2 separate regions of the Homo sapiens genome follow, and region 2 is linked to region 1. A link means that fine-mapping ties the variant in region 1 to the expression of a gene that starts in the linked region. Tissue or cell type: whole blood. Region 1 holds a variant in brackets; the other region holds the start of a gene. All regions are shown on one strand. Distances are from middle to middle.

Evidence for each region. PIP is the estimated chance that this variant, and not a neighbour inherited with it, causes the effect.
Region 2: it holds the start of LIPT2-AS1, and the variant in region 1 is fine-mapped to the expression of LIPT2-AS1 in whole blood (INTERVAL, PIP above 0.99).

The regions. Positions count from the first base shown.
Region 1 is chr11:74,546,023-74,551,225 of GRCh38, reverse strand. No RefSeq gene overlaps it. Among named protein-coding and RNA genes, the nearest start is that of POLD3, 44 kb to the left of the region's middle. The variant CA/A (reference allele first, on the strand shown) is at 2,174.
Region 2 is chr11:74,490,163-74,495,292 of GRCh38, reverse strand. It overlaps LIPT2-AS1 (LIPT2 antisense RNA 1), which reads right to left and starts at 1,913. Exons shown (of 2, transcript NR_171028.1): 1 at 1,320-1,913. LIPT2 (lipoyl(octanoyl) transferase 2) reads left to right here and starts at 1,569. Exons shown (of 2, transcript NM_001144869.3): 1 at 1,569-2,055; 2 at 2,929-4,774. The coding sequence starts at 1,590. The coding sequence ends at 3,158. RefSeq lists silencers at 1,334-1,583, 1,694-1,803.

The sequences.
Region 1 (5,203 bases):
GACTCAAACTTGCATACTCCATTCTGCAAAACAAAAGCCGTTTGTTTGTCCAACCCCATCTCCTTAGGAAACTGCTGAGTGAACATTCATTGTTGTTCATTCTCATCTTTCATTATTCATCACAGTATTCCTTACAACAACTAGAGTACTCTGTCCCAGAAGAGTTCTGATATACACAATTTTGCCCACCTTGTTAAATTTCTAGCAATACTTTGGTACCCAGGGATGTTTTGGCATCTGTTATAAACTGGGGTCTTGGTCAGCTGCTCAGCTGACCTGCCCCTTCCTCCAGCTCAGATCCCCATTGTATGACCCTGGGCACGTCACTTCTTTTTTTTTGAGTCAGAGTCTCCTCTGTCGCCCAGGCTGGAGTGCAGTGGCATGATCGCAGCTCACTGCAGCCTCGATCTACTGATCTCAAGTGATCCCCCTACCTCAGCCTCCCAAGTAGCTGGCACTGCAGTCATGCTACCAGGTCTGGCTAATTAAAATTAAAAAAAAAATTCTTCAAGAGACAGGTTCTCTTGCCTAGGCTGGTCTCGTGGCCTCAAGCCCAGATTATAGATCTGACCCACCACACCCAACTTTTACTTTATGTCTTTGGTCCTCAGTTTCCCGTGGTATAAAATGAGAGCTTTAGGCTAGATTATCCCTAAAATTCCTCACAATTCCAGCATTCTATAATTTTGCCTATATTATAAACAAAATGAGTCATTGTGTTACAGGGAAGGGGTCCCAATCCAGACCCCAAGAGAGGGTTCTTGGATCTCAAGCAAGAAATAATTCAGGGTGAGTTTATAAAGTAAAAGCAAGTTTACTAGGAAAGTAAAGGAATAACGAATGGCTACTTTATAGACAGAGAAGCCCCAAGGGCTGCTGGTTGTCCATTTTTATGGTTATTTTTTGCTTATATGCTAAACAAGGAGTGGATTATTCATACCTTCCCTTTTTAGACCATATAGGGTAACTTCTTGACGTTGCCAATGGCATTTATAAACTGTGACAGCGCTGTTGGGAGTGTAGCAGTGAGGACGACCAGAGGTTACTCTTGTCGCCATCTTGGTTTTCATGGGTTTTGGCTGGCTTCTTTACTGGCAACCCGTTTTATTAGCAAGGTCTTTATGACCTGTATTTTGTGCCGACCTCCTATCTCATTCTGTGACTTAGAATGCCTAACAGTCTGGGAATGCAGCCCAGTAGGCTTCAGCTTTATTTTACCCAGCCCCTATTTAAGATGGAGTTGCTCTGGTTCACACTCCTCTGACAATGGCATTTGTTACAAAAAAAGATAATAAGCTAAAAATGAGTGTTCCAAAAAGTTAGATTTTTAATGACTTTGAGGCTAAAGTTAAGGCTTATTATACTATTATTATTACATTTAGGTTAAAACTGTACCTTGACATAAAGAATTTGATGCTTTGGCCCAACTCAGGTATGAAATATCAATTAACACTTATTAATGGCCTATTATGGGCTGTGTGCTGTACTCCATGTGCTGATCCAGAAGAAAGAGAAAATATCACCAAGCCTCAAGTCTGAGGAACTTGTAACCATAACAATAATTAACTGATAAGATGACAAAGCAAGTGATCAATACTTGAGTAATGTACCAACTTGTTCTGAAATGAAATTGGCTGGGTGCATTATAATGATGTTTATTGGTGCAGGAATAAGATTTTTCAAAGGAAATAAATGAGCTGAGTTCTTTAGAATTCCACATATGCTTCACTTATTTAAAAATGAAAAAAAAAATCTGGCGATTAACAAGGTAATGAAATTTGATAATATTGGACCAAAAAGACAATAACTGTGTTAGAGTCAGTGAAGAAAAACAAAATTCACACTTAGGACTGACCCACCAAGTTGAAATGCTGTGTGAAGTTATTAACTGCTTCCTTAAGTAATGTGTCTAATAGTGCTTGGGGCTAGATTATCAGGCTGAAAGGGTAGATTAATCCACTGCCCCCCACTAGTGCTATGCTCTAGAAATGTCTTTCTCCAAGAGTCCTAGTACCTCTGAGATTCCTTACTTCTTTTTTGAAACGGAGTCTCACTCTGTAGCCCAGGCTGGAGTGCAGTGGTGTGTTCTCAGCTCACTGCAACCTCTGCCTCCAGGGCTCAAGCAATTCCCCTGCCTCAGCCTCCCAAGTAGCTGGGATTACAGGCGCCCCCC[CA/A]CGGTGCCTGGCTAATTTTTGTATTTTTAGTAAAGACGGTTTTGCCATGTTGGCCAGGCTGGTCTCGAACTCCTGACCTCAGGCCTCCCAAAGTGTTGTGATTACAGGTGTGAGCCACCGCGCCTGGCTGATTTTCCTTACCTCTGCCACTGGCCCTGCCTGAACACTCTTCTCATAACTTGTCTGAATACTTCTCAGCCTACACAGCCTAGCTTAAGCACCAGCATCTAGTGAAGTCTCTGGTGCATGAAATATTAGCATGTGTGAACTATCCTCTCTGCTGAATGGACAGAGCTGATTTTAACAATCTCTGACTATCTGTACCCCACCTCCTATAGCCTGTAATTACAGTCACCCGCAGGAACACCTCTCCATCACCTGGGAAGAATAAACACAATGCCTAGATCAACTGGGAGGGTGTGTGAATGCAGATCAGTCCCAGGAAACATTTGACCAATTGCATTTTCTCTCTCTCTGCCTCTCTTTGGTCTCCCTCCCTCTTCTCCCTAACCATTTTCTTGGTCTCTTTAAACTTCTACCTCCTTGTAGAACTCCCTCATCATGGAAGAGGAAGCACGAGATCTTTGAAAAGCTACACATCATTTGGAGACTCTTGCGTCCTTCAGCTCCTGCAGAATGAAACATCACATGACAAACCAAATCTTCTTTTAAAATATTAACTACTGGTCGGGTGTGGTGGCTCACGCCTGTAATCCCAGCACTTTGGGAGGCTGAGGCGGGCAGATCACCTGAGGTCAGAAGTTCAAGACCAGCCTGGCCAACATAGAGAAACCCCGTCCCTACTAAAAATACAAAAATTAGCCAGGCATGGTGGTGCATACTTGTAATCCCAGCTACTTGGGAGGCTGAGGCATAAGAATCACTTGAACCCAGGAGGCAGAAGTTGCAGTGAGCTGAGATGGCATGACTTCACTCCAGCCTGGGTGAAAGAGTGAAACTCCATTTCGTTTTTTTGTTTTGTTTTGAGACGGAGTCTCGCTCTGTCACCCAGGCTGGAGTGCAGTGGCACCATCTCGGCTCACTGCAAGCGCCGCCTCCCAGGTTCACACCATTCTCCTGCCTCAGCCTTCCGAGTAGCTGGGACTACAGGCACCCGCCACCACACCCGGCTAATTTTTTGCATTTTTAGTAGAGATAGGGTTTCACCGTGTTAACCAGGATGGTCTCAATTTCCTGACCTCCTGATCCACCCACGTTGGCCTCCCAAAGTGCTGGGATTACAGGCGTGAACCACCGCGCCAGGCTGTGAAACTCTATTTCTAAATAAATAAATAAGTAAATACCTACCACCCAAAACACAACTTCTTCATTGTGTCACTGTGCAAACAAAGTCTCTGTCTCCTTACTCCTTTCCAAAGACCACACTTCCTTGTTGAGACAAGAGAGAAAACCCAGATTTGCCCCTGTAGTAGGTTGACTAGTAGCCGCTAAAGATGTTAGATCCCAATCCTTGAAACCTGTAAATGTTATTTTATATGGAAACAGTGTCTTTGCAGGTGTAATTAAGTTAAGGATCTTGCAGTGAGGAGATTATCCTGGGTGGGCCCTAAATGTAATCACACGCATTACATATGACCTTGGCCTGACACCTTAATTTTGGCTGAGTGAAAATGATTTCAGATTTCTGACCAACAGAACCGTGTGAGAATAAATTTCTGGGTTTTTTGTTTGTTTGTTTTTAAAGAGATCAGGTCTTTCTCTGTCACACAGGCTGGAGTGCAGTGGTGCAATAATAGCTCACTGCAGCCTCAAACTCCACGGCTCAAGGGATCCTTCCACCTCAGCCTCTCAAGTAGTTAGGGCTACAGAGGTGCATCACCATGCTCAGGTAATTTTATTTTATTTTATTTATTTATTATTTTTTTTGCAGAGATGAAGGTCTCATTATGTTGTGCAGGCTGGTCTCAAACCCCTGGCCTCAAGCAATTCTCCTGCCTCTGCCTCCCAAAGCTCTGGGATTATGGGCATGAGCCACTGTGGCCCGGCCCATGACTTAACTCTAGTTGTAGTCCTTGTGGTTAGCAACAGAGGTGGGGCAGATCCAGAGGTGTATGGTAAGAACACCTGACAGCAATAACTTAAGCTTACCCTGAGAATGACCCTGTATGGCAAACACACCTGAATGTGTGTTCTGAGCTAGGGAATTGGGAAGTGGCCAAACCACAGACTCGTTTCTTGTCAATGAGGAACATTTGAGCCTCTGGCGCATCCCGTGGAACACGGGCTGTACAGGGGATCAAAGCATTGGGTTTAGGGTTAAATGAAGGTTGTCAGGTGGAGGTTGTTAGGGGGAGGGTACTAAGTGAACATGCTATAGAAACTGCAGGCCTTTTGCAAGCGGCTGCAATTCTCCCGCCCAGCCTACCACCACTGGACCTGTTCACCACCACTGGACCTGTTCTCTTGTCCAGCCCGCCGCTGCTGGACTCTCCCCTGTATGTAAGCCCCCAGTAAAACCCCATGTCTCATTTGCTGGCTCTGGGTCTCTTTTTTGGCCTCTTGAACCTGGTGCCATCCCCACTGGAGTTGATAGGGGTTTGGCACAACATGAGGGAGGCACATTTTATCTTGAGGGTCTGAGTTCTCTGCATTGCCTTCAAACAAGCGAGGGAGGTGGGGGTGCTAGCTCTTAAGAGGAGAAGGGCACAACTTCTGAATGCTCAGAGGATTTAGAGGAGTCTGGGAGTTCAAAATATACCCACATGTCCCCATCCTAAGTGCCAGAGTTCTACTAACCTTAGCGTATTGGACCTATCGTGGTCATTTAATTTTCTCTGGAGCTTGATGGCTGTATTAATTCCCAGCTCAGGTCTTCAGCTTTTTCTGCCTTCTTGCTGTAGGAATTGAAAGCCTCTTTGTAAGCTTTCACATTTGGCTTTCATTGCCTGTTAAATGCCTGCAGCTTTTTATTGTCTTTTTCTAACATATCCATGAATTTAGCAATAGTCACTCAATTCCATTATAGTCACTCGATTTCCATAATAGAAACAGTTAGTTTCTCCTATACC
Region 2 (5,130 bases), 56 kb after region 1:
AAAAGGTTGCACTCTGTATGATTCCATCTATACAACACAGACGTTTGCCAGGAATTAAGAAGCAGTGTAACTACAAAGAGCAACATGAGGGATCCTTGTGGTGATGAAAATGTTCTGCATCTTGACTTTATCAATGTCAGTATCCTGGTTGTGATATTGTACTACAGTTTTGCAAGGTGTTTCCATTGGGGGAAGCTGGGTAAAGGGTACATATAATCTGTCCATATTATTCCTTACAACTGCATATGAGTGTCCAATTTTCTCAAATAAAACATTTAATTAAAATAGTACATATGTGATTTCTCTTGTCCAAACCCTGATTGATAATTTGAACCCTTCATCAGACTGGAAAATTTCTCTTCTATTCCTAGATTGCTAAGTATTTTGGTCAGAAGAGGTGTTTATTTTTGCCAATAGATTTATCTGTATTTTTTAACATAATCATAGCTTTTCTTTAAAAAAAATTTTTATTATTTCTTCCAATGAAGGCTTTTCTCTTTTAAGGTAAATTACATTGTTTGATTTCAGAATGCAAAACCAACCTTGCATTCCCGGGATAAACCCTACTTCATCATGATGTATTAATCCTTTTATAAATTGCTGGATTTGATTTGCTAATATTTGCTTAGGATCTTTATGTCTATGTTTATGAAATGTTTTTCAGACACCTATGGTGTCTGAAAAGTCCTCAGTAAAAATTCATTGAATTCAGACTTGTTTAAATGATACTCTAACTGCAACATAGCTGATGTTGTGGTCCAGACACCCCCTCAGGGCCTAGACAGTCATTCCCTCAGCTTCTGGAGTTGGTTACTGATGATACACAACTGAGTCCTTCTCTGGGGGCCGCCCTCCACCGAGGGAAGCAGTCTTGCCAAAAAAAAAAAAAAAAAAAAAATCACAGCTCCTCCCCAGGTGTAGCCTGTATCCATGACTGGTCAATGCAAGGATAAGAGTTTCTGGCCCCCTTGCTTTAATGTGGAACTACTCTGAAGGGTCATCCTAGGCTCCAAGCATGCCTTGGGATTGGTCAAGGCCTCTGCTGCAACTGTTTTGCAGGCCAACTTCTTCCTCTGCCTACAAATTCCTGCTTCCTTCACTTTCTTACAGGTGCTGATCTTTAAGTTCTCCCTACCTCCACCAATAACCTTGTAGGCAAGCTAATCTCCCTCTTGCGTCCCCCAGGGGCTCAACACAGGACACACCACGTTACCCTGTTTTATTTTTCTTTTCATAGCATTTAACACCTTATACGTGAAATAACCTTATTTACTTAACACTTAAAATACTTATCGTCTGCTGTAAGAATGTAAGCTTACCAGGACAGATCTTTCTCATACGCTATGCACCGCTGTATCAAGCGCCTATGGCAGGGCCTGCAGAACACAGCAGGCACTAAATACTGGTTGTTGAATGAACCGATGAGTCTGGCCCCGCGCTTTTGGTCCTGGGATCACATATCCCCCCTCCAGCTTTTAACACGCACCTGGGAGCTGCGGCTCGGGGTGTGCCCCCGAGTCCCCGCCCCTCAGGCCACGCCCCCAGGCCCACGGAGAGGGCGGGGCCCCGCGGACGCAACGGTGGGCACGATGCGGCAACCCGCCGTTCGGTTGGTGCGCCTGGGTCGGGTGCCGTACGCCGAGCTACTGGGGCTGCAGGACCGCTGGCTGCGGCGGCTGCAGGCCGAGCCAGGCATTGAGGCCCCGTCGGGGACTGAGGCGGGCGCGCTCCTGCTCTGCGAGCCCGCGGGGCCCGTGTATACGGCCGGGCTGCGCGGCGGCCTGACGCCCGAGGAAACTGCGCGGCTACGGGCCTTGGGCGCCGAGGTGCGCGTCACAGGCCGCGGTGGCCTGGCCACCTTCCACGGCCCGGGCCAGCTGCTTTGCCACCCGGTACTCGACCTGCGGCGTCTCGGCCTGCGCTTGCGCATGCACGTAGCGTCGCTGGAGGCGTGCGCCGTGCGCCTGTGCGAGCTCCAGGGCCTGCAGGACGCCCGCGCGCGGCCCCCGCCCTACACTGGCGTCTGGCTAGACGATCGCAAGATCTGCGCGATCGGTGAGCGCCGCGGAGCAGGGCGGTACCTGAGAGCCGAGGTCGGAGCTTGAGGCCTGGGGGCGGGGTCTGACGGGGCTGGACCAACGGAGGTGAGGGCCGGGAGGAGGCGTATCTAGCGCGGGTTTTGAATCACAGCTACCCGCTGCGTTTGAGTTTTTAAGCCCCTTTTCAGATATCGTATATTCAGAAGCAGAAGGCTCCTCACATCTAGTCCAACACGCATTTCTGTTAAGGGAGAGACAAGAGAAGTGAATTGCCAGGTTACGTCCTGCGAATGACAATGTCATGGCAAATAAGGGTGCTAATTTTCAAACTTTTTTTTTTTTTTTTTTTTGAGACAGAGTCTCGCTTTGTCACCCAGGCTGGAGTGCAGTGGCGCAATCTCGGCCCACTGCAAGCTCCGCCTCCCGGGTTCACGCCATTCTCCTGCCTCAGCCTCCAGAGTAGCTGGGGCTACAGGCGCCCACCACCAGCCCGGCTAATTTTTTGTATTTTTAGTAGAGATGGGGTTTCACCGTGTTAGCCAGGATGGTCACGATCTCCTGACCTCGTGATCCGCCCGCCTCGGCCTCCCAAAATGCTGGGATTACAGGCGTGAGCCACTGCGCCTGTCCCCAAGCTTTTTTTTTTTTAAGTATTGGAATCTGTTAAAAGACATTTCCTGGAATCCTCATGATGAGTGCAGCTGCTTGAAGCCACGCACCCCTTCCTTTCATTTGTTTCCTTTTCCCATCTGAGTACAATCCCTTGTTTCTCCAGAAACAAAATTTGAAAACCGGTGATCTAATCCAGTTTTCTCATCGCCCTGAGAGGGACACCAAAGCCCGGAGAGTGGAGGGTATCTACTCTAAGACCCTTTGGCTTGCCTTGCAGGAGTCCGCTGTGGAAGGCACATCACATCCCACGGCCTGGCTCTCAACTGCTCTACCGACCTCACGTGGTTTGAGCACATCGTGCCCTGTGGACTGGTTGGGACAGGCGTCACTTCCTTGAGTAAGGAGCTCCAGAGGCACGTCACCGTGGAAGAAGTAATGCCACCTTTCCTTGTGGCCTTTAAGGAGATCTACAAGTGCACACTGATCTCAGAGGACAGCCCCAACTGAAGAGTACTCATAACAGCCAGGATGCTCCTGCCTTGGGAAGCATGAAGTCTGACTTGAGTCACCTACTGAAACCCAGATTTTAGACCTGGCCTGTCATTCACTGATCATGAAACTAAGGACATACCATGAGCTCTGAGCCACTATTTTCATATGTATCCTGTTTTATTTATATCTTCCCCACCTACCTCAGAGATACTAGATGTGACAATACTGTGAAAAGCAACACATGCTATATAAAACATTAGCACTGCTATTGACAGCAGTGTCTCAGAGAAATTCAGATGTCATAGATTGTTATTTCTCGATTGTTGATGTCATAGATTGTCATTTCTCAATTGTTGCTTCCTCAATACTGTGTCTAACTGAGCAATTCTGGGCTCTAGTTCCTTTGATTTTGTGGGAATCAAATCTCTGAATGGCCCAGGTGAAGGTGATGTGATGTAGTGCTTTTTCATTCTCAAGAGACCTGGGTTCTTTCTGCAATAAAGGGAAAAGGGAAGAACCTTCTAAGAATAAAATGGGATCTTACCTTCCTGGGTTTGATTCCCCAAGTTTGATAATTTAGCAGTTTTTAGTTGGGTTACCCTGAGCTAGGCCAAAGACTGGAGGAAGGATAAGAATAATTTCTCACACTGTACAAATGCCAAAGATAGAAGTGAGTTTTTCTTATATGAGACCTCTAAATTTGTAAGGCTGCGTATTATCTGTTGCTGTGTAACAAATCATCAAAACTTAGTGACTTAACAGTAAACATTAATTATCTCGTTTGTGGGTCAGGAATTTGGGGGAAGCTTAGCTGGGTGTTTCTAGGTTAGGGTCTCACACGAACTTGCAGTTAAGATGTCAGCTGGAACTGCACTTATTCAAAGGCTTGGCTGGGCTGGAGGATCAGCGCTCCATATGGTGCATTCACTTGCGTGGTTGGTTATGGTTGCTGACAAGAGGCCTCAGTTCCTTACCGTGTGGACCTCCCTATAGGGTTGCTTAATTGTTCTCATGACAGGGCAACTGGCTTCCCCTAGAGCAAGTCATGCCAAAGAGAGACAAGCTGGAAGCCACAATGTTTTTTATGACCCAGCCTCAGAAGTCACACAGGCATTTCTGTAGTCTTCTAACAGATGAGCCCTGTTCAGTGTGGAAGGGACTGCACTAGGGCAACAGAAGGTGAGGATTATTAGGGGCCATCTTGAAGAATGGCCACCACAGCCTATTAAGAGTGGAAAGAGCCTCGAATGAGAAGTCAGGGGACCCTGGTTCCAGTTCTGGCTCTGTGGAAAAGTCATTTACTCTCTGGTCTTCAGTTTCTCCTTAAACCAGTGCTGTTCAATAGAAATACAATGCAAGCCACATTGTAATTTGACATTTTCTAGGATCCATGTTAAAAAGGTAAAAGAAATGGGTGATGTTATTTTTATTTTATTTTATTTTTATTTTTTTTAAGAAATGAGGCTTTGCTATGTTGCCCAAGCTGGTCTCAGACTCCTGGGCTCAAGGGATCCTTCTGCCTCAGCCTCACAAAGTGCTGGAATTACAGGTGTGAGCCACCATGCCTGGTCTATGATGTTAATTTTAATATTTTAATTAACCCAATATATAAAAATATCAATATAAAGCAATATAAATGTTTTCTTGAGATATTTCATATTCTTTTTCTCATGCTGAGTCTTCAAAATATAGTGTGTATTTTACACTTATAGCACACCTCATTTTGGACTAGCTACATTTTAAAAGTGCTCATTGGTCCCATGAGGACTGACCATTCTCACATCTAAAGTCCTTTTGAGTTCCCAGGGTTCTGTGGTCTCACTGGCTTCTAGGAAGAAAGGTGAATCCTCCTACATCTGAGGTCTGATTTTTTTTAATGCAAATAATTTATATCAATTATTCAAGCTGAAAAGGACTTTAGAGGTATATTCCTACCCCCTCATTGTAAAGAGATGAAAGCAAGGCTTAGGAAAAACCTTCTCAAAGT